Regions from separate parts of the Homo sapiens genome. Here region 2 is linked to region 1. Evidence: fine-mapped expression QTL. A gene starts in region 1. The other region holds a variant in brackets. All regions are shown on one strand. Distances are between the middles of the regions.

Region 1 (16,332 bases):
CTGCGTGACAAAGAGTGGGATCCTATTTCAAAAATAAAAATAAAAAGAAAGAAAATAAAAATTTTAAAAGACACAAATGACCAATAACAGAAATTCTACAGATTCTAATTCTAAAGCTTCTAAATGAATAGGGTATATCATCAAACATTTAAGGAAAAAAATCATACCAAGTCTACACAAACTCTCCCAGAAAATAGAAGAGGGGAGGATACTTTCCATTTCATGTTATGTAGTCAGCATTACCTTGACATCAAACCAAATAATGCAATGGCAATAAAATTGCAAACCAATGTCCCTCGTTAATATGTAAAAATCCTTAAGATATTAGAACATCACATCCAACCCCACGACCAAATGGGGTTCACTTCAGGAATGCAATGTTAATTCAACTTTTAAAAATGAATCCATGTAATTCACATTAACTGAATAATGAAAAAAAGCAAGATAATCTCAGTAGAGGCAGAAAAAAAACTGACAAAATTCAATACCAATTCATAATAAAAACTCTTAGGAAACTAAGAACAGGAAGGAACTTCCTCAACCTGATAAATAGCATCTTTGAATAATTACAGCTAACATTATATTTAAAGATAAAATACTAACCACTTTTCTCCCTAAGTTTCAGAACAAGGTAAGTATACCCACTTTTACCACTTCTATTCAATATTCCAGTAAAGGTCCTAACCAAGGCAATAAAGCAAGAAAATGAAATAAAAGGCATTCGGACTGCAAAGAAAGAATACAATTTATTCCCAAATGACACAACTGCATACACAGAACATCAGAAGGAATCAATCTACAAAATAGCTATCAGAATGAATACATGAGTTTGGCAATATAGTAGAATACAAGAACAACATATTTGAAAAGATTGTATTTCTAGGCTGGGCATAGTAATTCATGCCTGTAATCCCAGCACCTTGGGAGGCTGAAGTGGAAGGATTGCTTGAGTACAGGAGTTTGAGATCAGCCTGGGTAACATATCAAGACTCCAAAAAGTTTTTAAAAATTAGCCAGGAGCAGTAGCACATGTCTGCAGTCCCAGCTACTCAGTAGGCTGAGGTGGAAGGATCACTTGAACCTGGGAGGTTGAGGACGCAGTGAGCTGTGATCACACTAATGCACTCCAGCCTGGGTGACAGGGTGAGACCCTGTCTCAAAAAAAAGAAAAAAAAAAGAAATTGCATTTCTATGTATTTCTACTAGAAAATTTAAAATTTAAAAATACTGTTTCAAGGGTATGAAATACCTATGAATAAATTTAACAAGCTATGCAAGATCTATACAATGAAAACAAAATACTGCTAACAGAAACTGAAGAAAACCTAAATAAATGGAACGATATATACTGTGATCATGAATTGGAAGATTCAATATGGTTAATGTGTCAGTTATCCCCAATAATCTAGAAACTCAATGCAATTCAACCAGAATCCCAGCAGGCTTTCTGTAGAAAGTGACAAACTGATTCTAGAATATTACTGTGAGAAGGGATCCACAGGCTTTACTAAATTGTCAAAAGGGTCTATGGCACAAACCAAGGTTTTAAAGCCCTATCGCTCTCCAAATTGTCAACTTCCAGGTGTACTCTTTCCTAAAATTGATTTGCCTGAGAACAAGTCTATGTCCTGAAGATTTTCCTTAACCACTTCTTTGTTCACAATTTTTTCCCACTTGACTAAAACAAAGTATTTCTCTCAGCCATCCCAGTGTTACTGTAGGCCATTTTCCTAGGTGTAAAAAAATTTTGTGGGAGGAGGGGGATGCAATCTGTAGATTTAATTCTATGAGAAAGCCACTTAAGAGTAAAGCACAAGGAAGTTTGATAAGAAATACTAAAGGAGGCTGTACCTTGCTTCTTTCAGGACAGATGTTAATAACAACAAGAACCCACGCCTTATCTACCACAGAACTACAGTTAAGAAGATGGTTGTCACAGAGATATATAGGAACACATTTATTTCAATTGATAAACTCCAAGGTTTTGATAAAGTAAAGCACTATCACAATATACGACAATTTAGAAATTAGATCTTTTGCAACTATTTAAACTCTTGACAAAAAAACTCCAGCTGTGATCAACTTAAAAAATGTGCAAGAGGAGCACATGTTATTCAAAATTATTGGATACACAAGCAAAAATATTTGAAGACCACTGATCTCAGGTAGTTTGTATCCTGTTTTCTCTATTAACGAAATTATACTTATGTAAATATAACCCACTTTCTTCTATTAAAGATTTGAACTGTCTGTAAATGGAAATGGAGACTGACTTTCCCTTTTTAATTTAATGCTGCATTTTTGTAAGCAGCTAGAAAATGTTGCTACTGGCATTATGAAAACATTTACTGGCTATGCCAAGTTGTTCTCTATGAACATCTGCTGTTGATTTTGACGGGAAGGTGAAAGGATACAAAATTCTATTTAAAACCATACATATCTATTCCTCTAACGCTGCCTGACAAGCTATATATTAAATGCCGTGCATCTTGTTATACACTGAGAATACAGAGGTTCTTCTTTTTAGGGACTCCGTCCAATAGCAGACTCAGTCCTCCAAAGAGTTACAGCAATTAACTTGTGGTAAGAATGTACATGCTATGGAAATATTAAGATGGGCTCAAAACTATAAAGTAAGGGGGGAAGGAGTATTCCAGAAGGGATTATAATACCACGTGCCAAGATATGTAAGGGAGGAAGACTATGGTGTGGTCTGCAAACTACAGTTACATATGAAAACAAAGCATATTTTCAGAATTGATATTCAAATTTGAGATGCTATCCATCATCCAGAGTCAACACTGATGTACGTATGGCAAAGAACAGGCATGGAAATTCATTTGGTGGTTTAATATTTACTGAGTATCCACTATGTATCTGATACCATATGAGAAACTGGGAAGGAAGTAAATGAAAAATAAGCTATGAAAAATCTTACATCAAAGGGAGAAGACAGACAAGTAAAACCACCACAGCACTAGCCTACAGAGTGATAAAACGCTACAGAATATACATGCACAGTGTTATAGGAACAAAAAGAAGAGGAATAGAATGTTTCCCAAAAACAGTAATGCTAGAGGAGTAAACTGGATAGAGAATAGGAGAATTGTAGGAGTAAAATCACAAAGCAAAAACCAAGTTCAGTTAAAAGCTGAAGAAAAAGAAGAAAGTATGGCAAAGGAGGCTAAAAAGCCAGATCACCAAGGACATTGAGTAGTAAGAAATCAAGCTATGGAAGCCACAGAAGGGTTTCAGGCATCAGTAAGATGATCAATCACTCTATCAAGCAGAGTGAAAGATATACTAAAGGTGGAGGCTGAGAATATGGCAAGACTGAAGAGAACTTCAATATGCAATTCAGGGATATTTATAATTCAGAATATATAAAAGCAAGAAAATAAAGGAAATATGGTCAAGGAAGATAGAGAAGAGATGGTGGGTAAAGGAGGTATTTCAAAGGTGCTAGTTATACAGATATTTATTTTGTATTTACATGTTAAACTACGTTATATACTTTTATGTGTTATATTTCACATTTTAAACAAATTTTTAAAGGGAGAAGCGTTGCTGAATTACAAAAATAGCAGTGAGAAAGGAGAAGAAAGGAAAAATTAAGAAACAAGTTAAAACCAAGAGAAGAAAAGAACGAAACTAAGAATCCTACCCCACCCCCAATTTCACAGTCTAGGTGGAAGGTGAAGCCATTTACCAACGACATATAGAAGCCAGTTGTTTTATAGGGGAAGAACTCAACTTGGACATGTAGAATTTGAGCTGCCTGAATGACACTCAGATGGAGATATCTAATAGGTTTTTAGACATGCAGGCCAAAAACTTAGAAAAAACCGTCCAGACTGAAAGTAAAAATTGGTGCACGATGAGCCAGTATGGTAGACTATGGCCTTGAAAAATATCACCCAAGAATACCATGAAAATTACAGAAGGCCAAGGACAGAGTAATCTCCAAGGAGCCTGTAAAATAAGACCTGAACTTAAACGAGATTTTGAATTATTAGCATAGCCATTTGACATATAAGAAACCTAAGAGTCCAAATACCTTTTCTTAAAATGATAGCTTTTCATTTTTCCTTTGATTAATGAAGAAAAAAGCCTATATTTTCCAATGACAAAGTTATAAATGATGGAAATTCTTAGTCATGTAAGGCATTTCTCATTGTACACCATTTATTATAATTCACTTGAAATTCAATCATCTGCCCTTCCTAAATTTCAGCCAAAATAGGATTTGGGGTAGCTTCAGTATGATTCCAAGACTGTGTATCTCTCTACCATCTAGCTCAGCCATCACCTGGCTTTCAATAGAACCAGCATGTGAATCTGTTGTAATACTAGATTTTACGTGCACCTGGCAGAAAGTAGGATGAGTATTACAGCATCTGACAGCAGGTAGCTGAAAGGAACTGGCAATTCTTTCAGTCCTGCCTGCTCATGAATTCTAGATACAGCAAGAAATGTAACAGGTAAAATTATATTTATGCTTAACAAAGACTTCCTGAATTTTCAAATAACATGACTACAAACAGTCCTATACTTCCCCAAGAATATATTTTTACTTTTTTCCCCAGCTTCCCAAGCTTACAATCCCAAGAATAAAATATTATAAAGCAGAATGAGCTTCCATTTTTGTTGAAGTCACTGCAATGCAAATAAAAGGCTTACCGTAATTACATCTGGCAATGAAGTTACATTTAATAACTTTCAGTCTCATGGCACCTAGCAGAGACTAGACTTTCAAAAAGCACAAAATAATAGACACTGACTACAAAGAACAACAATATAAAACAAAGAAACTCAAAATAGTTTGCTTTATCCCTTAAAGGGGCACAAAGGTCTGAGATTTGTATGTAAATGCCTGAAAATAAGAGAATACCATTTATATCATCATTTATAGTTATTCAATGAATTTTTGTAATTCTAATTAAGAATTACATTCAAGAATTACATTCAGAAGACATGAAATACGGTTAAATACTTCACAAAATCTGGGGGAAAATACGTGTGCTTATACTCCCATATGCAGTACTTACCTGTTTGTATCTAAAGAAAGATGATCTTAAGATATATTCTCTCTCTCTTTTTTTTTTTTTTTTTTTTTTGCTGCTCTGCAAGGAGCAGGGCTAACTTTAAGGCCAGAGTTGGCCTTAAGATGTATTCTTGAAATATACATTTCTGCTTGTGGGAGCACTCAGAGATTACTAGAAGTTTTTTAAAAGAAAGTTTTCAAAAACTGGATAATGCTCTTCTTTGTTCTATACAGAAATCATGTTTAATCTTATACAGAACAAAGATTAAACCAGCTGAGTATAATCATTCTCTTTACAATTACAAAGAGTATCTAATTATCAGACATAGTTAAGCCAGAACAGATTACAGAAGACAAGCCTGATTTTAAAAACGAACATAAAAAACTGAAAAGACTTAGCAATGTACAGCCAAGTTAGTACACAAATTATTGGGTACCTACTAGATGAAAAGCACCATGCTAAATGCAGGGGGAGAAACAAGAAGTAAAACATTCAGTTTCTGTCACTGGTCACAAATTTTAAGACCACTGTACAATAAGATTTAAGATTTAAAAAGCAACATGAGGCCAGTGGCTCATGCCTGTAATCCTAGCACTTTGGGAGGCCAAGGCAGGAGGATCACTTGAGCTCAGGAGTTCGAGACCAGCCTGGGCAACATAGTGAGACCCTGTCTCTATGTAAATAAAAATATTAAAAAAAAAAAAAAAAAGAAAGCAACATGAAATTTCAGGCAACATACGCTTAAATATCAAATTAGTAATTTAAACAATAAGTAAGATCTGAGGAAAGATTACATCCAAGTTTTTTGAAGCTACTTCCAGCCCATGTATTTAGTGAACTATAGTTTTTACAACAAGAAGTTAATCAGATTCTTGAAATTATTGTAATTTTTTTTTAAAGCAGTAGCAGAGGGGTGACAGTTTCTCACTATTCAGGCCTTCCAGCTAGAGAAGAGGGACAAGGAATAACTGAGTAGGAAATTAGATTAAATGATCACTTCCTTAAAGTCTACAGTTCTTCCTTAATTTAAGAAAGTATAAAATCTCGGCCAGGCGCGGTGGCTCACGCCTTTAATCCCAGCACTTTGGGAAGCCGAGGCGGGTGGATCACGAGGGTCAGGAGATCGAGACCCTCCTGCCTAACACGGTGAAACGCCGTCTCTACTAAAAATACAAAAAATTAGCCAGGCCTGGTGGTGGGCGCCTGTAGTCCCAGCTACTCGGGAGGCTGAGGCAGGAGAATGGCGTGAACCTGGGAGGCGGAGCTTGCAGTGAGCCGAGATCGCGCCACGGCACTCCAGCCTGGGTGACAGAGTGACACTCCGTCTCACAAAAAAAAAAAAAAAGTATAAAATCTCAAATACAATGTATGAAAACAAACTCATAAAACACAAGTACTGTCTAAGACAGTGGTTTTCAAATTCTGGTGAACATCTAAATAACCTGGATAACTTCTTAAACCACATAGATGCCTAGGTAGTATCTCAAACCTTTGGAATCGGAACCTATAAAGGTGAAGTATATCTGTATCCTGAGAAAGCTCCGTAAGTGATTCTGATGAACAGCAAAGTGTTAAAATTAAGTTACATGGTTAAGTACACACTCTTCAGTGGTAAGGAAATCTGAGTTCAAATGCCAATTCTAATATTTACTAGAGCCATCACCAACTAACTACCCACCCTAACACTATTTCTAATCTACAAAAAGGGGAAAAGCTAGCTATACCTCAAGTGATTGTTATAAGGATTAACAGTGATGATAAGATAAAATGTTTAGTACAATTCTTGGCCCATTCAGTAAGCATTAAATGAATTCATTCATTTAATAAACATTCAGCACTTACACATCAGGAGATGAGGAACATCTAATTAATTTATTAAGTATTAATAAACATGACAACTCTTCAATGGTGTGGTAAGAACATATAATCAGGAGAATGTATTCTAATCAGGAAAGTCTTCCCTGAAGTGAGCTGAATGATGAATAGGCATAATTGGCTAAAAAAAGAAAGGAAGGGCATTTCCAAGCAGAGGAAGTAGCATAACCAAAGCCACATACTTGAAGCAGGAGAACAGAAAAGACAGGGTGACTAGGGGAGAAAGGGAATGTCAGAAAGCACAGTGGAGATGAGTTTGGAAAGGGGACCGACTATGCAGGGCTTGTAGGGCATGTTAATGTGTTCGATTTACTTAAAAATGGTGAGAAGCCACTGAAAGATTTTAAACACTAAGACAATGTTATTAGGTCTGCATTTTGAAAAAGTCACTAAGTCTTGTTTGGAAAACTACAGGAGACCACAGTAGATGCAAGCAGACCATAATCAGGAGGCTACGGAAGTAGTCAGGATGAGAGATGGTGGTGGCTTGGAACAGGACTACTGTTACAGACGAAGAGCAGACAAGAGTCAAGAGATATTCAAGAGGCAAAATCAACAGGACTTCATGAGAGGCTGAGTATGAAGCACGACAGAGGAATTGTCAAACTTCAACTTCTATACAAAGGAATGGATAGTGATGCTACCCACGGAGTTAAACACAGTAAGAGGAGCTATTTTTCTTCTTGGGGTGGGGGAAGGGAGGTATATCATGAATTTCAAACATGTGAATATGAGTAGTTATTCCCAGTAACAGGGTTGATCTGTCTAGAAAGTATTCCACAGTATAGAAGTACAATGTGCCTGTATTTATTTTACTGGGTATTTATGAATCTTAGAGACAAAATAGGTTTCTGCATGTGAGTAATGTAAATCTAAAGAGAATGAAGGCCCTTACCTTCCATTAGGTTCCCTTCCTTTACACAATCCCCCAAAAGCATTCTTTATGATTACAGTTTAATGTTGCCTCAAGAAGTAATTTATATACTCAGCTGATTTCATTTTTAAATATTTTAAAAATATTTGTGCTAAAGAATAAGACAGCAAACCAAACAACAACAAACCTGCAAAGTCCAAAAGGAATCTTCAAGCACCTGACTTTCAAGCCATCACCAGAACATAATGGGGTTTTACAGTGGCAGGCTGATTTGGAGCATTTTTGCTAAACTATTTATTTTTCAGAACGGAGATAGGCTACTTAGAAAACTCACTCATAGTATCCAATGTTTTTAGAAAGTGTCATCACAAATAATTCCTGAGTTTGACGTACTAAAAAATAGTTGACACCTTCCAATGAAGTCACTACAGGCATAGCGCTTTTAAGCAGCTTGTCTGGAGCCTCCTCGAGTGCCTTAGAGGGTGGATTTGATAATATGGCCTCCTTAATTACGGATCACAGGTATGTGCTCAAAGTCCAATAAGTTTTTGCAAGCTTTATCGGTCTAAACCCTCCTCCATCCGTATTCTCCCGTTTAGAAAAACAAGACTGCAGGAGTAACCGTGGGGTTTTTTCTCTTAACAAAACCCCTGCCCCACCCACCTCACACACAATAACCTTCCATTCCAGAACTAAAGCTACTGTCAGAGAAGGACGGCGGGCGGCAGGGCCCTGGCTGGTGACCCAGGCTACCGGATTCCGGACCTCAGAACTGAGGTGAACTCTCTCACCCGGTCCTAGAGTAGTGTCCAATGTCCCCGAAAGGTACTACGTTCTCCACCACCGAAACCCGAGCTCTCGAGCCGGCATGGGGGGCTCTCCCTCCGGCAGCTGACTTCGATCCCGGGTCTCCCGTCGCCTCAAGGCCTCTTTCGAGGACTCGGCCCTCTCGGATCCGCTCCCCGGAGCTCGCTGCTCGTCCAGCCCCGCTTTGCGCGGGCGCCGACCGCCGATCGCCCGGCCGGCCGCCGGCAGGCCCGTCACCAGGCAACACCCACCAGCCTGAGCGGCCCTGGGAGGCCTAACCCGGGCGCGAGTCCTCCATTCCCTCCTCGCCGGCTCCGGGAGCCCAGGCGAGAGAGCCGCCGGTGAGGGAGGTCGGTCGGTGCCGGCGGCCGGTCACTTACCTCTTCCTTCTTCCAGGAGGGGCGGTGCTGGGGCTCTTTCCCCCCGCCCCCCTAATAAACGCCTCCTGGCTGTTCCTGCTCTGCCTTCGTGCCTGGCCACTGACTCTGGCTTTACTCCATATCCTCCGCCGCCCCCGCGGCCGCAAACGTCGGAGCTAGAAGGAAAGGGGTGGGGAGGGGAGGGACCGGGGACGAAGAGTAAGGGAGGGGGAAAAAGACTAAAAGACCTGCCGGCCGGGGGCATGACGTCACTTCCTGCCGGTTCGGAAGAGGCGGAGCCAGTACTTCTCTCCGCCCCGGGTGTCAGGTGGGGCGGGGCTATGGTGCCAGGGGAGGAGCCAGCGCGCGAGCTTATGGCGGTTCTTTTGACTCCGAGGTTCCGTAGACTTGTCAGTCAGAACGAGCTTCCGGGCCCAGGGCTGAACGGGCCAAGTTCCAGGAACCGTAGAGATGGCTTCTGCCGGAAAAGGAGGACAGGTAGCCCTGTATATCCTAGCCAAATGTGCAGTGAAGGTGGAGGGGGCAGCTGAAGGGAGCAGGCGGCTGGGACTCTGCTCCTCATTGGTCCAGGGCCCCGCCCATTTCCTAGCCCCGCCCCCTTCCTGCCCTACCAGGCACTGGACTGGGGGACCCAGGACTGAGGCTTTTTAGGGGTTACTGTGGTGAAGTGCCCTTGGAGCGTGCAGGAAAGCGTTTTTTCTCAAACTTTAATATACATACGAATCCCTAGGATCTTGTGAAAGTGCAAATTCTGATTGAGGAGTAGGGTCTGATAATCTGCGTTTCTAATACATGTCCAGATGGCACCAATGCTGCTGGTCCCTAGGCTACACTTACAGCAACAAGGGGTTAATGTACTAGAGGGCAAATTCCTTGAGCTAGAGGAGTTATTTCTTTAATCTAGCCTACTTGTTTAATGAAGGTTAGAGAGGTAGACTGTCTATGGAAAACAGGCTGTACCGCTGTATTTTCCACCTACCCCGTCGAGTACCCTCCTGCCCACCTCCGCCCATCACTTTCTGGCCTCCCCTCCTCAGTCTCCGCTCTGCCCACAATGTCTGGGGATAAGATTTCTTGAGTGATTAGACGGGTAACTTCTGTTACAGAAGGAATTTGAGGGTGGTGGATTTTTATTTCTGTCATTTTATCGTAAACATATGTATAGTTGGGCATACTTTTGCGGTTATGCATAGTTGGAGAAGAGAGCTTAAGTTCTTGGATTCTACCCACTTCCCCCTGCAAATCTAGAAAAAACATTCTAGAAGTTCTAAGTTATTCCCTTATCATTCTTTAATTTTTTTAATTAATTTTAATTAAATTTAATTTTAATTAAAATTTTACTGGGGTACGGAAGAATGAAGAATGACTGCGAACTATAGGTTTCTTTGTGGAATGATGCAATGGTCTGAAATTAGATAATAGTGATGGCTGCACAACTTTGTGAATGTACTAGAAACACTGAATTGTACACTTTAAAAGGGTACATCCTCTTTCATCAGCCACCATTACAATCCTTCTTCCCCAAGGTTACTCGTTTGAAGTTTATTCTTCCAGATCTTTCTATTTATTTACATACATTTTTACATAGGTTGGGAATTCATTTTTACCTAAGTAGGATAATAATATACAAGTTGTTCTGCTCAGCTCATTTTTAAAAAATTTTTGTTTTGGGTTTTTCTTTTTCCCTACTTAATGAGATCCTTGCACACTATAAACATAGCTCTACTTCATTCTTTCTAATGGCTGGCTACTATTCTATAGTAAGGGTATACCATAATTTATTTAACTGTTTTTTTCAGGTAATAGACTGTTTTTTTTCCCTTGCCCAGGCTGGAGTGCAATGGCGTGATCTCGGCTCACCGCAACCTCCACCTCCTGGTTCTAGCAATTCTCCTGCCTCAGCTTCCCAAGTAGCTGGGATTACAGGCGTGCGACACCATGCCCAGCTAAATTTTTTTGTGTTGTATTTTTGGTAGAGATGGGGTTTCACTATGTTGGCCAGTGTGGTCTTGAACTCCTGACCTCCACCTGCCTCAGCCTCCCAAAGTGCTGGGATTACAGGCTTAAGCCACTGCGCCTGGCCAACTGTTTTTGTTTCTAATTGAGACAGGGTCTCACTCTGTTGCCCTGACTGGAGTGCAGTGGCAGGGTCACAGCTCACTGCAGCCTCGGCCTCCCTGGCTCAAGTGATCCTCCCACCTCAGCCTCCTGAGCAGCTGGGACTATAGGAGCACGCCACCATGCCCCACTAATTTTTTGTATTTTTTATAGAGTCTCCCTGTGTTGCCCAAGCTAGTCTTGAAATCCTGAGTTCATGCGATCCTTCTGCTTCAGCCTCCCAAAGTGCTGGGATTACAGGCATGAGCCACTGAACCTGGCCAGTAATAGACATTTTGATTGTTTTTAGGTTTTCATTATTTCTCAGCAATTTTTTTTTCTTTTTGCCCAGAGAAGTGGGATTTCTGTTATTTGGAGAGTAAGTTCAGCATGTGATAAGGCAATTTTTTTTCATTATGCAATATGTCCATGTAAAATAAGGCACATCTTTATCTAAACCCCTTAATCGGGAGCAACAGTGGAAGCACTTTCTAGAGCCCAATATCTCTACAATGTTTGGTAGTTTCACTTCATAATTTAGATAATTGGGTTATATTCAAGTATTCAGCTCAAGTGGGTATGTGACCCTCTTTCATTTTTCAGCAAACTTTTTTTTTTTTTGAGACAGAGTCTTGCTCTGTCACCAAGGCTGGAGTGCAGTGGCGCGATTTCAGCTCACTGCAACCTCCATCTCCTGGGTTGAAGAGATTCTCCTGCCTCAGCCTCCCGAGTAACTGGGATTACAGGCGCATGCCACCACGCTCGGCTAATTTTTGTATTTTTAGTAGAGGTGGAGTCTCGTCATGTTGGCCAGGCTGGTCTCAAACTCCTGACCTCAGGTGATCTGCCTGCCTCGGCTTCTGAAAATGCTGGGATTACAGGTATGAGCCACTGTGCCTGGCCTTAGCAAACTTTTTAAACAGCTGGTTTAAACAATTAAAAAAATTGATTATTTAGTTCTTTGCCTTGATCTCCCTAATGAAGAACTAACCATTGTTCAAAAGGGCAAAAAGAAAAAAGAAAAGGCAAAGAGTTTGGTGAAGCCACAACTCTGTAATAATCAATACTCAAGTGTATTTGCATTACTTTTAAATATGCCCTAAAATAACATTCTTGAAGATTCGGTATAACTAGTAGTTAACCATGTAATAAGGGTATATAAATTCATATAATAATGTATTTCACATCAGTAAAGCAAGTTCCCAGGTTTACTCTGTTTTTATTGGCAGACCCACATGGTGCAACTTAGTAAATATACTATAGTTTATGTAAGATGTGAGATGACACGTAAGAAGGACATTACCAGCAGATATGCCTTCAACAAGCATAAGGTTGTCAAAACTGAAAAATTTGCATATTTTTGTATAATCTAGATTTGTTAGAAATGCATATTTAATTTTTTTCAGGATGCTCTGGTCCTTTTCAAGCTACTCAGCTATGGGATGGTATTATTCACTCTCTTCAGGCCCAAGTGGAAATAAAAAGAAGGAGGCATCATTTACAGACATACAAAGACTGTTTCACTGGTTCTGATGCTGTCGATGTGGTCTTAAGTCATCTTATGCAAAACACGTGCCTAAGTAGCAATGACATCTCTTGTCTTAAAGGGGTTCATCTTTGCCAAGTTCTAATGAATCACAAAGTATTTGAACCAGTAGGAATGAAGAAGCTTTTCAAAAAAGAAAAGGAATTAGAATTTGAAGATTCCAACATTAGTCTCTACAGGTTTCTAGGCAATAAATCATCTTACGATTGTTGCAAAAGACAAAAGGATGCTGAGAATGAGTTCAATGAAACCTTGAGGTTAGTGTTACCTAAGATACTGTAATATATTTTATTTAGACCCTAGAAGAACTGTCTTTATTGAGCTAAACTCGAATGTGTACTTTTTTCAGAAGCCAATTAAAAAAAAAAATCCATGTGAAAATTAATCCACTTATGCATTTCCTCTAAAACTGGAATGATGCAATAGACTAGAATTAGATAATAGTGATGGCTGCACAACTTTGTGAATGTACTAGAAAACACTGAGTTATACACTTTAAAAGGGTGACTTTTGGCCAGGTAGGGTGGCCCACGCTGAGGCAAGACGGACAGATCACTTGAGATCAGGAGTTCGAAACCAGCCTGGCCATTATAGCAAAACCTCGTTTCTACTAAAAATACAAAAATTAGCGGGATGTGGTGGCAGGTGCCTGTATTCCTAGCTACTCAAGAGGCTGAGTGAGGCACAAGAATCGCTTGAGCTGGGGAGGTGGAGGTTGCAGTTAGCCAAGATTGTGCCACTGTACTCCAGCCAGGGCGACACAGCAAGAATCTGTCTCAAAAAAAAGTGAATTTTATGGGATGTGAATTATATCTCAGTAGTTTTTACTGTTTCCAATATAGCAGCATCTGTTGCTGTAACCAAAAATATATATTATTCCTTTTCCTTTACAACATTTTGTTTTCCTTAGAGCAAATACAGTTTTGTTTTCTGTTTTGCTTAGTTGTTGAAGACATTATCACATAAATTTTTCAGAGTTTATACCAGGAAAAACTATGTCTTCTAAGGAATGGATATGCTTTCTAATTTGAAAAATGACTTAGCCAGTGTACTAAAAGCCAAGGTTTTCTGGAAACTCAGAACAAAAATTTTCTATTCCATCATAACAACTATGTTAACCTTAGAATTAGCATATATGCTTTTCTTCTTTATTTAGAATTCTAATTTGTCCTCTTTTGGTGATAGTCTATTAAATGAATTATTTGCATCTTTTATTATAAGCTGCCTGAAATCGTTTTTGGAAATAGAGAATGTATGAATAAATTTTAATACATTAATTTAAATATATATTTGAAATTTTGGTTCTGTGTATAATGAAAAGAGCCACGTATTATTTTTTAACAGACCAGGATATGAAATGATTTCAAATCCTCTAGCACAGGAGATTGGTGAGGAAAGAATTGAGGAACTTATTCATACAATAAATGGGAATCCAGCTTTATGTCCAAATATCACAGTTCAGAAACCTTTTCTCCGGCTTTCAAAAGAAGGTAATTTGTTTTCATTATTTTTTCAGAACATGGTAAGGAAGAACTAACTTCTTTTTAACAGGTTCTTATAAGCAGTTTCAAGGTCACGGCAAAATAGAGCAGAAAGTACAGTTCCCACATACCCCTTGCTTCCACTCACACACAACCTTCCCCATTATCAACATCCTGCAACCAAGTGGTGCATTTGTGATAATCAATGAATCTACATTGATACATCATTTTCACCCAAAGCCCATAGTTTACATTAAGGCTCAGCCTTGGTGTTGTACATTCTATGGGTTTGTACAAATTTTTGATGACATATTATCTGTCATTATAGTATCATACAGAATAGTTTCAGTGCCCTAAAAATTCTCTGTGCTTTACCTACTCATTCCTCCCTTCTCTCTAACCTTAGGCAACCACTAATATTTTTACTGTTTCCAAGAACTGACGTTTTAAATGTGATTTAAGTAGTGTATTAGTGTGTTGACTCCCTCCTTCTCTTCCCTGTAGGAGTTTCCTTCTACACAGCAATTACATCAGATAAGACAGGTGAGGCAATATACATCTAATAACACTTAATTCATTTTTTACAATGACTGTGACCAGATTAACTGGAGGTGCTATAGTCTGCACTGCAAGAGAAAACATACGGACTCACCACAGTCCTTAGTATTTGTCCTGCAAGACCATCTTCTTAATGAGTGTATCCTTTGTCCATTGTGTAAACTCCTCCCAAACATCTTCCTACTCTTTCCCTTTCTCAGAACAAACTAGCTAAACTACCTGTTGCACCACTCCTCTTTACTATTTACTTCATCTACTTGTGTTTTTCTCCTTAAAATGCCACTAATGGCAGATAAAAGAGCACCATAGCCAGGGCAGTTAGGAGAGATACATACAAAATTCATTAATGGCCCTTTACTCCATTTGGTCAAACCATGACAGAAGCAAGACTAGCTATGACTTGCACACTGGAGGACTGTGATTTATCAACAATAGTTAACATTGGCATGATAAAGGAAATACAGGGTGCCCAAAGAAAGGGTGTAGAATTGAGAAGAAGAACTAAAAGAGAACTCTTTTTTTTTTTTTTTTTTTGAGACGGAGTCTCGCTCTGTTGCCCAGGCTGGAGTGCACTGTTGTGATCTTGGCTCACTCCAACCTCTGCCTCCCAGGTTCAAGTGATTCTCCTGCCTCAGCCTCCAGAGTAGCTGGGACTATAGGCGCCCGCCACCACACCCGGCTAATTTTTGTATTTTTTAGTAGACACGGGTTTCACCATGTTGGCCAGGTTGGTCTCGAACTCCTGACCTCAAGTGATCCACCCACCTTGGCCTCCCAAAGTGCTGGGATTACAGGCGTGAGCCTCCTTGGCTGGCCATTGAGACACAGTTTCACTCTTTCGCCCAGGCAGAAGTGCAGTGGTGTGATCTCAGCTCACTGTAAACTCTGCCTCCCAGGTTCAAGCAAGTCTTGTGCCTCAGCCTCCAGAGTAGTTGGAACTATAGGCGTGTGCCACCATGCCTGGCTAATTTTTTATTTATTTATTTATTTTTTGTATTATTAGTAGAGATGAGGTTTTGCCATATTGGCCAAGCTGGTCTTGAACTCCTGACCTCAAGTTATCCACCCGCCTTGGCCTCCCAAAGTGCTGGGATTATAGGTGTGAGCCACCATGCCTGGCCGTAAGAGAACTCTGATGAAGACTAATATTTAAAGGGCAAGCAGGAGAGTCCCCCAGAAGTACAGTTTTTATCTAGTACAAATGAAAAAATAACTTTTCCCATTATTTTTTCTTGAGGTCATGACGTACCTCTAGAAATTTCAAACTAAAAGTGGATATGATTTATCAGTAAAGGCCAGGGCACGGTGGCTCACGCCTGTAATCCCAGCACTTTGGGAGGCCAAGGTGGGTGGATCACTTGAGGTCAGGAGTTCAAGACCAGCCTGGCCAACATGATGAAACCCCATCTCTACTAAAAATACAAAGATTAGCCAGGTGTCGTGGTGCGTGCCTATAATCCTAGCTACTCTGGAGGCTGAGGCATGAGAATCACTTGAACCCGGGAGGCAAAGGTTGCAGTAAATGGAGATCGCGCCTTTGCACTGCAGCCTGGGCAACAAGAGCGAAACTCTGTCTCAAAAAAAAAAAATTCTATAGGTAATAATAAGAATAATTTCCACTTATTTTGGACCTTTCTCTGTGCTAAGCAATTTGTTATGCATTTTATAT
Region 2 (16,332 bases), 990 kb before region 1:
CAAACAGAGAGCCAAATCATGAGTGAACTCCCATTCACAATTGCTTCAAAGAGAATAAAATACCTAGGAATCCAACTTACAAGGGACGTGAAGTACCTCTTCAAGGAGAACTACAAACCACTGCTCAGTGAAATAAAAGAGGATATAAACAAATGGAAGAACATTCCATGCTCATGGGTAGGAAGAATCAATATCGTGAAAATGGCCATACTGCCTAAAGTAATTTATAGATTCAATGCCATCCCCATCAAGCTACCAATGACTTTCTTCACAGAATTGGAAAAAACTACTTTAAAGTTCATATGGAACCAAAAAAGAGCCCGCATCGCCAAGGCAATCCTAAGCCAAAAGAACAAAGCTGGAGGCATCACGCTACCTGACTTCAAACTATACTACAAGGCTACAGTAACCAAAACAGCATGGTACTGGTACCAAAACAGAGATATAGATCAATGGAACAGAACAGAGCCCTCAGAAATAACGCCTCATATCTACAACTATCTGATCTTTGACAAACCTGAGAAAAACAAGCAATGGGGAAAGGATTCCCTATTTAATAAATGGTGCTGGGAAAACTGGCTAGCCATTTGTAGAAAGCTGAAACCGGATCCCTTCCTTACACCTTATACAAAAATTAATTCAAGATGGATTAAAGACTTAACATGTTAGACCTAAAACCATAAAAATCCTAGAAGAAAACCTAGGCAATACTATCCAGGACATAGGCATGGGCAAGGACTTCATGTCTAAAACACCAAAAGCAATGGCAACAAAAGACAAAATTGACAAATGGGATCTAATTAAACTAAAGAGCTTCTGCACAGCAAAAGAAACTACCATCAGAGTGAACAGGCAACCTGCAAAATGGGAGAAAATTTTCGCAACCTACTCATCTGACAAAGGGCTAATATCCAGAATCTACAATGAACTCAAACAATTCACAAGAAAAAAACAAACAACCCCATCAAAAAGTGGGCAAAGGATATGAACAGACACTTCTCAAAAGAAGACATTTATGCAGCCAAAAAATACATGAAAAAATGCTCATCATCACTGGCCATCAGAGAAATACAAATCAAAACCACAATGAGATACCATCTCACACCAGTTAGAATGGCCATCATTAAAAAGTCAGGAAACAACAGGTGCTGGAGAGGATGTGGAGAAATAGGAACACTTTTACACTGTTGGTGGGACTGTAAACTAGTTTAACCATTGTGGAAGTCAGTGTGGCGATTCCTCAGGGATCTAGAACTAGAAATACCATTTGACCCAGCCATCCCATTACTGGGTATATACCCAAAGGATTATAAATCATGCTACTATAAAGACACATGCACACGTATGTTTATTGCAGCACTATTCACAATAGCAAAGACTATTGTCTTTTGCTATTTGGAACCAACCCAAATGTCTAACAATGATAGACTGGATTAAGAAAATGTGGCACATATACACCATGGAATACTATGCAGCCATAAAAAATGATGAGTTCATGTCCTTTGTAGGGACATGGATGAAGCTGGAAATCATCATTCTCAGTAAACTATCACAAGGACAAAAAACCAAACGCCGCATATTCTCACTCATAAGTGGGAATTGAACAATGAGAACACATGGACACAGGAAGGGGAACATCACACTCCGGGGACTCTTGTGGGGTGGGGGAAGGGGGGAGAGAGAGCATTAGGAGATATACCTAATGCTAAATGACGAGTTAATGGGTGCAGCACACCAACATGGCACATGTATGCGTATGTAACAAACCTGCACATTGTGCGCATGTACCCTAAAACTTAAAGTATAATAAAAAAAAAAAACCTAGATGACGGGTTGAGAGGTGCAGCAAACCACCATGGCACATGTATAGCTATGTAAGAAACCTGCATGTTCTTCACATGTATCCCAGATCTTAAAATAAATAAAAAATAAAAATAAATAAATAAAAATAAAAATTATATTAAAAAAGAAGTCACATAGCTTTATTTCCATACCCCATGGGTTGAAGCAGTCACAGCCCATTCAGATTCCAGGGAAAGGGACACAGGCCACATCTCTTGATGAAAAGAACATGAAAGAATGTGCAGTTATGTTTTAAAAACATCCCAGTAGAGTTCACGAACATGAGTTTTTACAGCAGACACTACATTTCCCTGCCAGTTTACCTGCCTTGGGATGGTGGAGGTCTCTGAAGTTGGCAGTCGTTTCCTGCAGGATTCTAAGTTGGATGGCAGCAGCTCTCCAGCTCTGAGGCAACGAAACTGAAAGCTAGTGGAGAGTTGCCTGAATTTTGCCTTCTCAGGTCTTTCCATAAGTTCTGTGAACACTCAATTTCCTGTATCAAATTCCTTCTTCTTGAAAATGCTTAGAGTGATACCTGTTTTTTCTACTGGAGTCTGACTGATTCAAGCTCCAAAGTCTGCCCTCCTAACTGCCTCTCGCGTTGTTCTAAACCTTTCTGGTGCTCCTGGCCTGCTCCTTTGCAACCCACACACACTCACACATCCAGCATACCCTAAGAAGATGACACTGCCTCTTAGTGCTCACAAAAGGAGTGCAAGTTATATGAACCTCAACTATCCTTTCTATCCAACTGGAACTGTATCTGTCTGTTTTTCCCCCTTCTGCTCCGTCTTAGAAGAAAAGTTCATCAATACTTTTGGGAAAAAGGTAAACTTTTAAACACGATGCATGGCACCCTTCATTTATCTTTTCAACCTGATTTTCTGCCATCTTTTTATATGTGCCCATGTTAATTATGGTAGACTAACTGCTTTACCAAATAGACTCATAAAATTGGTGGAATTATTGCTGCAACAGAAAGACCCAAAGGTCTACAATGGCCTAAACCCTGTAAAAGTTTATTTCTTGCTCAAATAACAATTATAGGCAAGCAAATAATCAGTGGCATATGCCCTTCTCTATGTAGGGACTTAAACTAATAGAGAGACAACCATTTCCTTCCCTCCCTCCCTCCCTCTCTCTCTCTCTTTCTTTCTTTCTTTTTTTTTTTTTTTTTTTTTTTGATGGAGTCTTGCTCTGTCACCCAGGCTGGAGTGCAGTGGCGCGATCTAGGCTCACTGCAACCTCCGCCTCCCGGGTTCAAGCGATTCTCCTGCCTCAGCCTCCTGAGCACCTGGGATTATAGGCGCCCACCACCACGCTCGACTAATTTTTGTATTTTTAGTAGAGACAGGGTTTCGCCACGTTGGCCAGGCTGGTCTCAAAGTCCTAACCTCAGGTGATCAGCCCGCCTTGGCTTCCCAAAGTGCTGGGATTACAGGCGTGAGCCACTGCGCCTAGCCTGAGACAACCATTTTCAACATTTGCTTTCCAAGGTCACCCTTTCCAGACATCCAGAAGAGAATGTAAACTAAAAATAAAATCCTAAGCCCCCCAACCAACTGAACAGACCCCCTCTTGGCCAAGAAGACCTCAAGAAAAACTTAAAAACTGAATTCCTGGCCATCACAAGAAGGGAAGGTCCAATATGCTTTGTTATCCTCCCTCCCTTTTGGAGTTTAGGCACAACTGAACAGCATTAGTGTTAAAATAGAGATCGTAAAGCTAACAAAATGGACTTATTGTCACAATAAGATGCCAAATTACAAATAGGACCTAACACGACACAAGAAGGGTTGAGTCACACATTCTTATAATTCACTGTAACCCAGTGTACTGGAAAACAATATCTTAATATGAAATATTCCTTTTTTGCTGCCTCCGAATTTTTAGACAAAGCTTTATTTCTTTAACCAATTGTAAATTAAACAGTCTCTGAATTTACTTATACCCTGTAAGCACCTGCTTCAAGATATCCCACCTTTTCAGGCTGAATCAGTGTAAATACCTTCCATGTGACTGATTTATATCTTTGCCTGTAACGCCTGCCTCCCTAAAATGTGTAAAACTGTACTGTAATCCTACTACCAAGGGTGCACTTTCTCAGGACCTCTTGAAACTGTGTTCCCCAGGCCATGGTCACTCATATTGACTCAGAATAACATCTTTAAAATATTTTAGCCAGGTGTGGTGGCTAACACTCATAATCCCAGCACTTTGGGAGACCATGGCTAGAGGTTAGCTTGAGGCCAGGAGTTTAATGCCCAGCCTGAAGAACATAGCAAGATCCTATCTCTACAAAAAAAAAAAAAAAATTAGCTGGGTATGGTAGCACATACCTGCAGTCCTAGCTGCTCAGGAGGCTGAAGTGGGAGGATCGCTTGAGCCTGGAGTTTGAGGCTGCAGTGAGCTATGATTATGATCATTCCACTGCACTCCAGCCTGGGTAACGGAGCAAGACCTTGTTTAAGGAAAAGAAGAAAAGAAAAAGAAAGAAAGAAAAGAAAAGAAAGAGAGAGAGAAAGAAAGAAAGAGAGAGAGAGAAAGGTAGAAAGAAAGAAAGAAAGAGAAAGAAAGAAAGAAAAAAAGAAAGAAAAAGAAAAGAAAAAGAAGGAAAGAAAGAAAAGAAAGAAAGAAAGAAAAAATTTTTTATGGAGTTTAGTTTCTCCATTAACGGGGGAAGCATACAGAGGGTATATGTGAGAGGCTTTTATGGGTTAGCCCTGGACATGGTACACATCACTTCTGCTCCCATTCCACTAGCTAGAATTCAGTCACAAGGCTACATCTAGCTGCAAGGGAGGCTGGGAAACGTCACCTAACTGTGTGCCCAGGAAGAAGAGAAAATGAGTTTTGGTGAATGACCAGCTAGCAGTGTGTGCCATTGTGCCTTAAACCTTGGCATGCTTATTTAATTTTCCTATAGTTCAGCTTTGTCATTTCAAAGTTGAGGATCATCGTGGCACCTCCTTCACAGGGCTATTGTAAGGATTAATTACATTAGTACTGTGAAGACCTTAGAACATTGCCTGGCTTTTTGTAAGCATCCCATAAAAGTTATCTACTATTGTTATTATTCTTGTAATCCTTAGGGACTCTGCTTTGATACTACTTCCTTACATGAAATCTTTCTTCTCCCTTTCCCCTCTGGCCCATTCTCTCTAGCACCATCATATTGTATTGTAGCTGTCTGTTTTCTGGTTGGTCCCTCCCCTAAATGCTTCTTGAGGATAAGGATTATGTTTAGCTACATTTTAAGTAACTAACATAGTCTCTGGCATATGATAGGTACTCACTAAATATTTGTTGAGGGAGTAAAGGAGAAAGTGATAAAGGTGAGAAGGAAAGCCACAAAGTGGATCAGTATCTTGTCATGGGGAGATCTGTGAAAGGACGGTTTGATAAATTGTCCCTTCATGGATTGTAGTCACCATCTTCCAGGTCCCAGAGGGTCACTTGGTACTGAAGTCTTATCAGCCTAGGGACCAAGGCTGCCTGCCCTTCATGCCCTGTGTGAGACACCGCTTCTGCACTGCCTCACGTCCTCTCAACCTACCTTTTCTCCAGTCCCTGCTGCAGCACCCAGCACCCAGAGAAGTGAATCTACTTTCCCTCACCTTGTAACTGAGTCTTTCAACTTTGAATGCATTTTAAAACTTTTTTCCTCTCTTTCTAGTCTTAAGATGTAACCTCGAAACTGAGTGTAGAAACTCTCTTTTCCTTAGTCTTAAAATATACCTTGAAATGTACTTTGAAACTCTGCTTCCCTCTCTTTCCCACCAGACTCTCCCTTGCACCATGGACACGTATCTAACTGTATACTTGTTAATAAATTCCAGGGGCTGATTTTACACAACAGCCAGGCAAGGAGACCCAGCTGCAGAATTCTCCCCTACTTGGAGATTACCTCATGACAGACATCTATAAACTGACTGCAACTGAGATGGCACCAGCCAGCACTCCAAGTGGACAACAACTCAAAATAACCCTTGGAAGAAGACATGCAGGCCTGTATCTTGTGTTACTCTGGCATGGTTCTCATACTAAGTATCCCCTTTTTATTTTTTATTTATTTTTAACATATTTTTTGAAACAGAGTCTCTCTCTGTTGCTCAGGCTGGAGTGCAGTGGTGTGAACATGGCTCACTGCAGCCTCAACTCCCAGGCTCAAGCAGTCCTCCCAACTCTTAGCCTCCAGAGTAGCTGGGACTACAGGTGTGCACCACCACATCTGGCTAATTTTTTTTGTATCTTTTGTAGAGATGGGTTTTCACTATGTTGCCCAGGCTAGTTTCAAACTCCTCGGTTCAAGCAATCGGACAGCCTCGGCCTCACAAAGTGCTGGGATTACAGGCATGAGCCACTGCGCCTGGCCAAGTCTCCCCCTTTAAAATCCCTTCCTTCAGTCTAACACTTGAAATGGTCTTTTGGAGGCACAAGCCTGGCCATTTCCCAATTGCTAGCATTTGAATAAAGTTGCTTTCCTTTTACTCGCTTCTCATATTTTGGCTCTCAAGTCATGAGCAGCCAGACTTGCATTCAGTCACAACGTGGCTGCCCTGCATCTCATTCTGCCCTGGGGTTGCTCTTGCTCAACTTCCTTGGACATTGTTAGAAATGTATTTTGACTGTCACATATGCAAGTATGCAAGTGCAAGGGAGTTGGCATCTCATGGGGCAATGTAACCACTGCAGGACATGAACTAGTTGATAAATATTCGTCTCTTCTGACTCTTGAGCAGATGATTCTGAAAGGGTGATGAACTCATCCTGGCTTTCCACGGATCTGAGTTTTCTCTGAGTTAGCACTGGAAATCCCATGTTGCTGTTGGTTACCTTAATTCTGAAATGCATTATGCAGGACTCCTTAGGGGGTCCCAGTGAGATCAAGTTCCAGTTTCCCACAGCTTAATAACACAGATTGTTTTGCCTTTTCCTGCATTTCTGGGATTACTTCCCAATATATACTGCCTTCACACAAGCTTGTGTCTT[C/T]GGCTCTGTTTTCTATGGGGAATCTAGCTGGTCTTTGAATTGGGCAATGCTTAGCTTATCTGTGCAGTGATGAGTGTTTCCAACTTTAGGAAACTTAAAAAGACAGAGGCAAGTGAAATAAGTCAGGGCCCCAAACAGCCAAATTATCACTTTCCTGACGTTGTTACAAAATTAGTCTGGAAGGTATGGCACTGTTCAAAGACAGTGTAATGAAATATTTATTATAAGGTTTAATTGCTTGAACAGCCAGATATAGAAAGGACTGCAGACAGATAGTCAGGAGACTTAACTTCTGGTCCCACTTTTAGTATTTAAAATCCTATGTGACCTTTGACACGCTTCTCCTTGGGCCTCAGTTTCTTCATCTCCAAATTCTTGGCTGCTACTCTGCTAAGATCAAGTGTACAAAATTAGGAGGTTAGGCTAGATTTTGCTTTTACCAGTTGTTCTATTGCAGCAGGTGCAGTTATACATGATGGGCAAAGGCTTGTGGGGTGTCAGGGGCCTTGTCCCTTCCTAGCGCCACTAGGGTTAATAGGCCTGGTGGCCTGTTTCATGTCCATTTCACTAGTTGAGCACATATTGAAGAAAGATTTTATATATGGGTCATAGTGGACCATGAAGAACTCCCAACTTATTTCCCTGACAACATTCTTTTTTTTCCTTTGAGACAGCCTTGCTTTGTTGCCCAGGCTGTAGTGCAGTGGCATGATTTCGGCTCACTGCAACCTCCGCCTCCCTGGTTCAAACAGTTCTCCTGCTTCAGCCTCCCAAGTAGCTGGGACTACAGGCATGTGCCACCATGCCTGGCTATTTTTTTTTTTGTATTTTAGTAGAGATGGGGTTTCACCATGTTGACCAGGCTGGTCTCGAACTCCTGACCTCAAGCGATCCACCCACCTCCGCCTCCCAGAGTGCTGAGATTACAGGCATGAACCACTGCACCCAGACCCCTGACAAGATTCTCGAGATTTAACAATCTCAAATCTTCTTTCCGCAGTGCCAACTAGACAAGATATCAGGGCCAAAAATATTTGGCTCTGAGATGTAAGAAAGGTCTTTCTAATTACTGTAGAACTTGAGGTCATGATCATCACAGCCAGTGGTGTGCTGCTCCTACCTGCTTGTAAAAGCCAGTTGCTAAATATTCAGGAATGTTTCAAGCCAAACAACCACTGGTAGCTTGAAATCAGTCATGGGGAGAGTATTGACACCACAGAAGTTGACAGATGCTACAAATCCATGTTCTCTCCACATCCACCCCTCCCTGAGCCAGTTTACCAGCAATTCCCCGCATCCAGCTCTTAACACTGGAAGTTTTTATCCAGGACTATGGCTAAATTAAATATGTGTGTCTTAAAAAGAATTTTTTTCCCTGCTTTTTGGTTTGTGGATACAAAGAGCTGAATCATTAAAACTTGTTTTTCTCTCCACCTCAACAGTGGCTTTCTTTATAGATTCTATGAATCTGAAAGATACAAGTTCCACCAGAGGTCTTGGTAGGGTTCCACAGCCCCAAGCTCTGCAGGTTCTGACAAAGGATAGGCTGGGCCCTGCCAGGAAAACTCACAGAACCACATCAAGGTGTTTGTGCTGCTGCTTTAAGAGTTTGTCCTCAAGACAAATAAGAGTTTGCCTATTTGGGGGCTTTGGAAATTTTTTTTTAGGATTTTGGAAGCCTGTTCTGTTACTTGCTAGTTGTGTTACTGGACAAGTTAGTTAACCTTGCTGATCCTGGGAAGTAATCTCAGGAAAGCAGGGAAAGGCAAAACAGCGTGTGTTATTAAGCTGTGGGAAACTGGGACTTGATGCCCCTGGGACTCTCTAAGCAGTCCTGCAAATTGCATTTCGGAATTAGGATAACCAACAGCAACACGGGATTTCCATGCTAAACCAGGGAAAACTCAGGTCCCTGGAAAGCCAGGATGAGTTCGTCACCCATTCAGAATCATCTGCCTAAGAGTCAGAAGAGGGGAACATTTATCCACTAGTTCATGCCCTGTAGTGGTTAAGTTGCCCCATGAGATGCCAACTCCCTTGCACTTGCATACTTGTATATGTTCAAGTATGGTGCACATGCTTGAGACAGGATCTCGCTCTGTTGCCCAGGCTGGAGTGCTCTGGCTTATCACGGCTCACTGCAGCCTCAACCACCCGGGCTCAAGTGATCCTTCCACCTCAGCCTCCTGAGTAGCTGGGACCACAGGCATGCATCACCATGCCTGGCTAACTTAAAAAATTTTTTTGTAGAGATGGAGTCTCACTATGTTGCCCAGCCTGGCCTCAAACTCCTGAACTCAAATGATTCTCCTACGTTGGCCTCCCAAAGTGCTGGGATTGCAGGAATAAGCCACTGTGCCCAGCCAACCTTGCTGAGCTTCACTTATATGTGGAATGGATGAGACCACTTCAGAGGGTTTATGGGTTTGTCATGAAGCTCAGGGAGCTTAAGGCTCAAGACACCTCACTTGTACAAGCTTCTCACAGGAGGGCTTTAGGTACACTGTATTTGTAATTTTCTAGTCTAAAGACCCCTGCCCTCTTCCCAAAATGTGTCATCTTCAGAGCTGCACAAACCTTGGATCTGATCCTGCTTGTGAGGATGAATCACGTGTAAAACACTTATTCTTGAGTCTGGCCCATTGTAAAAGCCTCAGAAATAGTCCTTGCTGTTGTCAGTGGAAGTACTTTCCCTCCATTATCACATATCCACATATTCTTTCTCCCACTGCCTAAATGTCAATGCCCATCCACGTCTGCTCAGAGTTTGCTTCTTTTCCTATAATGTCAGTTTCTTGCCAATCACTCCCCACTTGCCATTTTGCCAGTCTTATTCCATAAGGTGCATCTGCACTTCCTCACTGCGTCCTTTTTCATAATGGGAAAACAATGTCCAGCGATTATATTCTTCACAGAAGTGATGTGACAGCAAAGAGAGATCATAAATGAATCGCCTGAAGCTTGTTGGTGTGAGGGGGAAACCAAAGTCATATTAATACTTAACAAAACAAGCAACAGGACAGGAAAACAAAAGGTAATTAAGGCAAAGCTGTGATGTTTTGCCAGTTGTTAACATAAGAGGCCAATTGTCAGCTGACTGTGATGTAAAGACGCTTCCTTTAAGAGCATGTGTAATATGTATCTCAGAATCATCAAAGGGCTCTAAGTCACCCTAATAATGGGTCTGTACCACAAACAGAGAGAATGCAAACCACATTTTGTCTTAAAAGACACAGCAAATTGCACTGCAGCTGTAACAAGAATCTCAGAGTCATTTGCATTAACTGGGGATGAGTGAAGGGGCTAAGTGGAGTGTCTGTGTGCAACATGGCACTTCTTCCTTGACCTGTGAGAAAGGAACTTGACAGCCAGGCTCAGTGGCTCATGCCTGTAATCCCAGCACTCTGGGAGGCTGAGGCAGGTGGATCACGAGGTCAAGAGTTCAAGATCAGCCTGGCCAACACAGTGAAACCCCGTTTCTACTAAAAGTAAAAGAAAAAAAAATTAGCCGGGCATGGTGGCGGACGCCTGTAGTTCCAGCTACTTGGGAGGCTGAGGCAGGAGAATGGCATGAACCCGGGAGGCAGAGGTTGCAGCGAGCTGAGATCGTGCCACTGCACTCCAGCCTGGGAGACACAGCGAAACTCTGTCTCAAAAAACAAAAAAGGAAAGAAAAGAAAGGAACTTGACTTATATACACTTAGGTGCAGCCATCATTGAGGGCTTGTTGTGCAAGGTGCTATGGATGGTGATGAGTAAAACCAGGTGTCCTTTCTATTATGCTGTGCTGGAAGCTTCTTTGGCAAGTGAAGGGAGTGTGGCCTTTGGGATCAGATGAATCTGGTGGAATCCTGGCTCTGTGCTCAGCATATGATTTAGACATTTATGTAACCTTCTTGAGCCTCAAGTTTCCTCATCTGTAAAATGGTAACAATACTACCCATCTTACAGAATCACAGAGAGGATTAAATGGGAAAAAAAAGACAAAGTGTCTGAAATATAGCAAGTTCTTAATAAATATTAACTTTCTTACCCCCTTCTGGAGGCATAGAATCTTAGTGCAATCTTGGTACTCTCAGAAACTGTTTATGTAGCTCATCTGAATCTTATTTTTTTAGTAGTTGAAACATTTTGTCTTAATACAGAAGCAATACATATTTGTAGCACAAGAATTAGAATATTTATTTATATATATATTTATTTATTTTTGAGACCAAGTCTCACTCTGTTGCACAGGCTGGAGTTCAGTGGTGCAATCTCAGCTCACTGCAACCTCCACCTCCTGGGTTCAAGGGATTCTCCTGCCTCAGCCTCCTGAATAGCTGAGATTACAGGCGTGCACCACCATGCCCGGCTAATTTTGTATATTTTTAATAGAGCCAGGGTTTCACCATGTTGGCCAGGCTGGTCTTGAACTCCTGACCTCAAGTGATCCACCCGCCTCAGCCTCCCAAAGTGCTGGGATTACAGGGGTGAGCCACCGCGCCCGGCAAGAATTAGAATATTTAGATAAGAAAAAAATTCAAAATTACAAATAATTCTAATACGTTAACACCCTTGGGTGTATCCTTCCAGGACACTTTTATGCCTGTTAATACATACGTATTATTAAAAATATAATTATACAATACATATTATTTTATAACCTGCTTTGTTTTCATACGTTACGTCATTATGGGAAATCTTTGAAAAAATCTCTCCCATGAAAAGGCCAGCTAACAATTATGGGAAGTATGGGAAGTGGTTTCGATTAACATACTGTGACAACTATCTATTATTAAGAAAGTCACGACAAAATTTTGGTGCCCCTTTCCCAGATGAAGGCCACATAGCTGCTATAAGGGACAAGGACCAGTAATATCTTCAAATCCTCTTTTTGAAGTGCCTTCATTTAAAAATCATGCATTTTCTTTTAAGAGTTTTATAAAATCTAGGAGGAAACTTATCCCTTTGTGTTTAGAACAAGGCAAAAGAAATTTCTGATTGGATATTGTTATGGGCCCATGACTTCTGTTGCAGAGAAGGTAATAGAAAAAGGTAAAATACTTCTACGCTCTATAATTCACCTTGCTGGAAAAAAAACAACTGGATTGGCTTGACAGGGGCTTAGACGGGTGACCAGGTTACTGTTTGGTTGGTTGAGAGACGGAAGCAGTACAGAATGACAAAAGTGTGTGGTGGGCCACCGGCCACTGGTTCATCATAGCAGGACCTCAAACCAATGTCTAGTCCATGAATGTTTATATATGGGTTGGTATATGAAGGTGGATATTTGCAAACAAATGCTTAGTTTTAGTGTCAGGATTTTCTTCCTAATTAATGAAAAGAGACTGTATGTTTTCAAGTTCTGTAGGCCTAACTAGAAAGGAAAGAGTTCAGGATTTCAGATTGTGCTACTTTCACAAGATGTAGGTATATCTTTACCAAAACACACATGGCTATGCACATGTTCAAGTATCTTGTTATAAGAAGGGTGTGGTGTAAGTGGAAAAATTGCTTCTGTTATTCTTGTGAGGCAGTGTAACTTAGTGGTTAGAAGCACTGATTGAAGAGCAAGACTACCTAGTCTTGAATTCAGCTTCACCAACTGTTAGCTGGGCAATCTTGGGCAAGTTAGTTACTCTTTCTGAGTCTCTATTTTTCTTGACCTGTAAGAAAGGAAATTGATGGCCAGGAGTGGTGGCTCATGCCTGTAATCCCAGCACTTTGGGAGGTTTAGGCAGGCGGATCACAAGTTCAAGATCAGCCTGGCCAACACAGTGAAACCCCATCTCTACTGAAAGTAAAAGTAAAAAACAAAAAAAAACAAAAAAAGAAAAAACAAATTAGCTGGGCATGATGGTGGGTGCTGGGAGGCTGAGGCAGGAGAATGGCGTGAACCCGGGAGGCAGAGGTTGCAGTGAGCCGAGATCGTGCCACTGTCTTCTAGCTTTGAGACAGCGAAACTCTGTCTCAAAAAAAAAAAAAAAGAAAAAGAAAAGAAAGGAACATGACTTATGTATATTTAGGTGCAGCCATGATTGAGGGCTTGTTGTGCAAGCTGCTATGGATGGTCATGAGTAAAACTAGGTCTCCTTACTATTATGCTGTGCTGGAAGCTTCCTTATGGGTATAATAATAGTTGCTCCTATTAATGAGTATATCCACCTCATAGGGTTGTTGAAGGATTTGAAAAATATTTTAGAAAGTAACAACTTTCAGCATTTAGAACAGTGCCTAGTATATAATAGGAAGTATGTGTTAGCTATTGCCATTTTATTAGAGTTTTAACAGGTCAGTCCAACAGAACTGGCAATTTCCTGAGTGATACTTTTTTTTTTTCCTGGGACAGAGTGTTGCTCTGTTGCCCAGGCTGGAGTGTAGTGGTGTGATCTTGGCTAACTGCAACTTCTTCCTCCTGGGTTCAAGCCATTCTCCTGCCTCAGCCTCCAGGGTAGCTGGAATTATGAGAACGCACCAACACGCCCAGCTAATTATTGTATTTTAGTAGAGACGGGGGTTTCACTGTGTTGTCCAGGCTGGTCTCCAACTCCTGACCTCAAGTGATCTGCCCACCTCAGCCTCCCACAGTGCTGGGATTACAGGCGTGAGCTACTTTTAATTCATTCATTACTCAAACAACACGGTATCCTGGATGTCTATATATGGTTAGGCACTATGCTAGGCTCTGGGCAACTGAAAAAAAAATGCCAATATTCTATATCTTTGAAAAGTAAAAACTGACTACTCGTGTCTTCTCAAGAAGCTTTGTGACTGAGGTTATGCAGGTCTTTTTATCTAGAGTAGGCTTCCTGGAAGGAGGACAAGACTAGCTCACCTGCAAAGAACTCAGTCACTTATCAGGAATGAATGAAGTGCAGAGCGTATTGGGATTCCCTAACACCAACTCTTCCTGAACATGCACCTTTGTCAAACCTGCCACTGTCAGAGCTGCCGACACAGGCAATGGATGGGGACATCAGGACAGGGCTTGGGGTGGGAGCCTGCAGTTCCTGGAATTTGCCCTGCTGACCTCACACTAGGTGATTTTATCCTACTTCCCAGAAACTTTCCCCCAGTTAGTCTAAAGTTGGGATGAAGCTACAAATTATTTGCTCTGAAAATTCTGAGTCTATTCTAGAGTTAATTTCCTGTACATGTTACATGGTTTGCATTATTAGAAGGGCCAAGGGGCCCCGGCAGTGCATTCCTTTTCATTTTCTGTAAAAGGGATCTGTGGGACTCTTTCATCTTCCATTAATGATGAGAATGTGGAAAGGGGAGGGTGGGGTAAGAGAACTAACAATTATTGAGCACTTACTCTGTGCCAGGTACTTTGTACATGTTCCTGGCACAGAGTCAGTGCTCAATAATTATCGGTTTTTGGGGGAACTGAAACGAAAATCTGAGAGGCCAGGGGCCATGTTTTTGTCAATACGTCTATTTTGGCAATGAGCACATTACCATGTATATTGTCAGTGGTCCATGTTGTTGAATGATATGATTATACACATGTTATGTGTGCATATCCACCACCTATCTATGTATCATCACTTGTCTATCACTTATTGAATCTTAGCTAAAGCTCATGCTATTTAAAATTACAATTGCCTTGGTCTCAGTTGAATACCATCCCATAATTTCTATGTGAAACAATTGATTTTGTGATTTCTATTTCATAATTGCAGAATTAACTAATTTATTATTCAAGTCCTTTGAACTTAAAGATGTTTTCAGTAGTGTGGATTGAATATATCTATGGGTTTGATGAAATTAACTTTTTTTTTTTTTATGAGACGGAGTTTCACTCTTGTTTCCCAGGCTGGAGTGCAGTGGCGCAATCTTGGCTCACTGCAACCTCTGCCTCCTGGGTTCGAGCAATTCTCCTGCCTCAGCCTCCTAAGTAGCTGGGATTACAGGCGCCCGCCACCATGCTCGGCTAATTTTTTGTATTTTTAGTAGAGACGGGATTTCATCATGTTGGCCAGGCTGGTCTCGAAGTCCCGACCTCAGGTGATCCCCCTACCTCGGCCTCCCAAAGTGCAGGGATTACAGGCATAAGCCACTGTGCTCGGCCGAAAGTAACTTTTAATTGTGATAATTACATTGCCCTTATTTCCATTACGCATGAAACAGAACTCCTCTGTCTTCTTATGGTAAAATTTTGGCACTGAAGACCAGTTGAAGATGAAGGATGCATCTTGGTAAGTTGAAAGAGGAGAGAGAGTGGGGCCAGGGAAGCCACAGTGGGCAACAGATTGGCATCCCAGCTTTCACCCCTCTCTATCATTCTTAGGTATTTCAGGTCAGAATTAAGAGGAACTAATTGGAGATATCATCTTCTTGGAATTGTTTGTGCCTCATAACACTTTAAAAATGCATTGACGCAGTGATTTCTGAAGTTCAGTCATTTGTGTATTGCCTTCACGAATTTTGCTATACCTTTGAATCACCTGTACTCATACTGACTTGAGTTTTTAATCATCTCACTTTCTTAAAATTAAATACTTTTCTTTTTTGGGAAGAGGATCTCATATTATTACTTTTTAAAAAATCTCTTTTTCCACACGTTCTAGTTATATCATTACTATAAAATTGAAGACAGGCTTCACTTGTTAAAAACTGAATGTAACTATAAAATTCAATCCAAGAAAAACAAAGAAAATGTTAGACAAAATTTTAGCTAAGCCTTATTTTTCTTGGACTTGAAGCCTAAGTTTTGCTCCCTGTCAGAGGGTTGCTAAAAGACCAGCAGCAAACTGAGAGTTTACCTTGGAGGTAATCAGAAAGAAAAAATAATTTTAAGGGGAATAACTTTCTCCCCCATATAATTCGGTGTATTTTAATGCCTGGTTGAGCCACTGTAATACTATGGAAGATTATGTCATCTTCCGTAATACACATTATCTCACACATGGCAAAACACTTCATGAGAAGAGAAACTGACATCTCATGATTTTGACCTTCACCACATATACAAGTTTTTTTGTTAGAAATATCACTCACGAAAAATGGATGAAGTAGTCTTCCATGCAGAAGTTTGGACATTTCAATTTAATGTCTCTGGTAAAGATTTTCCAGTTAAAAGCACATTGACCACAATGTTTCGTCTTCTCTTTAACACTGAAAAGGGGAGGAACGGCCTTATTAGCAGTCAATACTATCAAAGTCAATGGAGGCAAGGGACCAATGGCCCATCATAGTCCTAATATCACTTACTGTTTTCGAAGGAGGACATCTTTCATAGTGGTATCTACCATCTCTTGGGGAGAAGAGCAGGAATGGATAGATTAACCTCTTCCAGACATCTGCTCACAGTCCCGATGCGGTTTCTGACTTAGAGGGTTTTTCTTAGAGATCTTCTCTGCTGTCCTCTGCAGCTGTCAGGGCATTCTCCAGATGGGGCCTGGTAGGAGTCCTTGAATTGACTCAGGTCCCACATCTCCCTGCAGTTCATTTATGCTTCAGGTCAAGGGTCACAAATATTCACTTGATAAGGGATGACAGATTAGTCACAGC

Which allele goes with the higher level. Positions count from the first base shown, and alleles are read on the strand shown. Sizes are in standard deviations (SD) of each study's normalised expression.
For the expression in platelets of the gene that starts at base 9,299 in region 1, allele C in region 2 goes with a higher level than allele T (large effect, 2.3 SD a copy in CEDAR).

Evidence for each region. PIP is the estimated chance that this variant, and not a neighbour inherited with it, causes the effect.
Region 2: its variant is fine-mapped to the expression of DEPDC4 in platelets (CEDAR, PIP 0.95).

The regions. Positions count from the first base shown.
Region 1 is chr12:100,260,046-100,276,377 of GRCh38, reverse strand. DEPDC4 (DEP domain containing 4) reads left to right here and starts at 9,299. Exons shown (of 10, transcript NM_001364818.2): 1 at 9,299-9,458; 2 at 12,485-12,881; 3 at 13,969-14,114. The coding sequence starts at 9,302. It overlaps SCYL2 (SCY1 like pseudokinase 2), which reads right to left and starts at 9,201. Exons shown (of 18, transcript NM_017988.6): 1 at 8,586-9,201. RefSeq lists enhancers at 8,567-8,626, 8,637-8,706, 9,377-9,456 and silencers at 8,777-8,856, 8,957-9,006.
Region 2 is chr12:101,246,572-101,262,903 of GRCh38, reverse strand. No RefSeq gene overlaps it. Among named protein-coding and RNA genes, the nearest start is that of UTP20, 25 kb to the left of the region's middle. The variant C/T (reference allele first, on the strand shown) is at 6,835.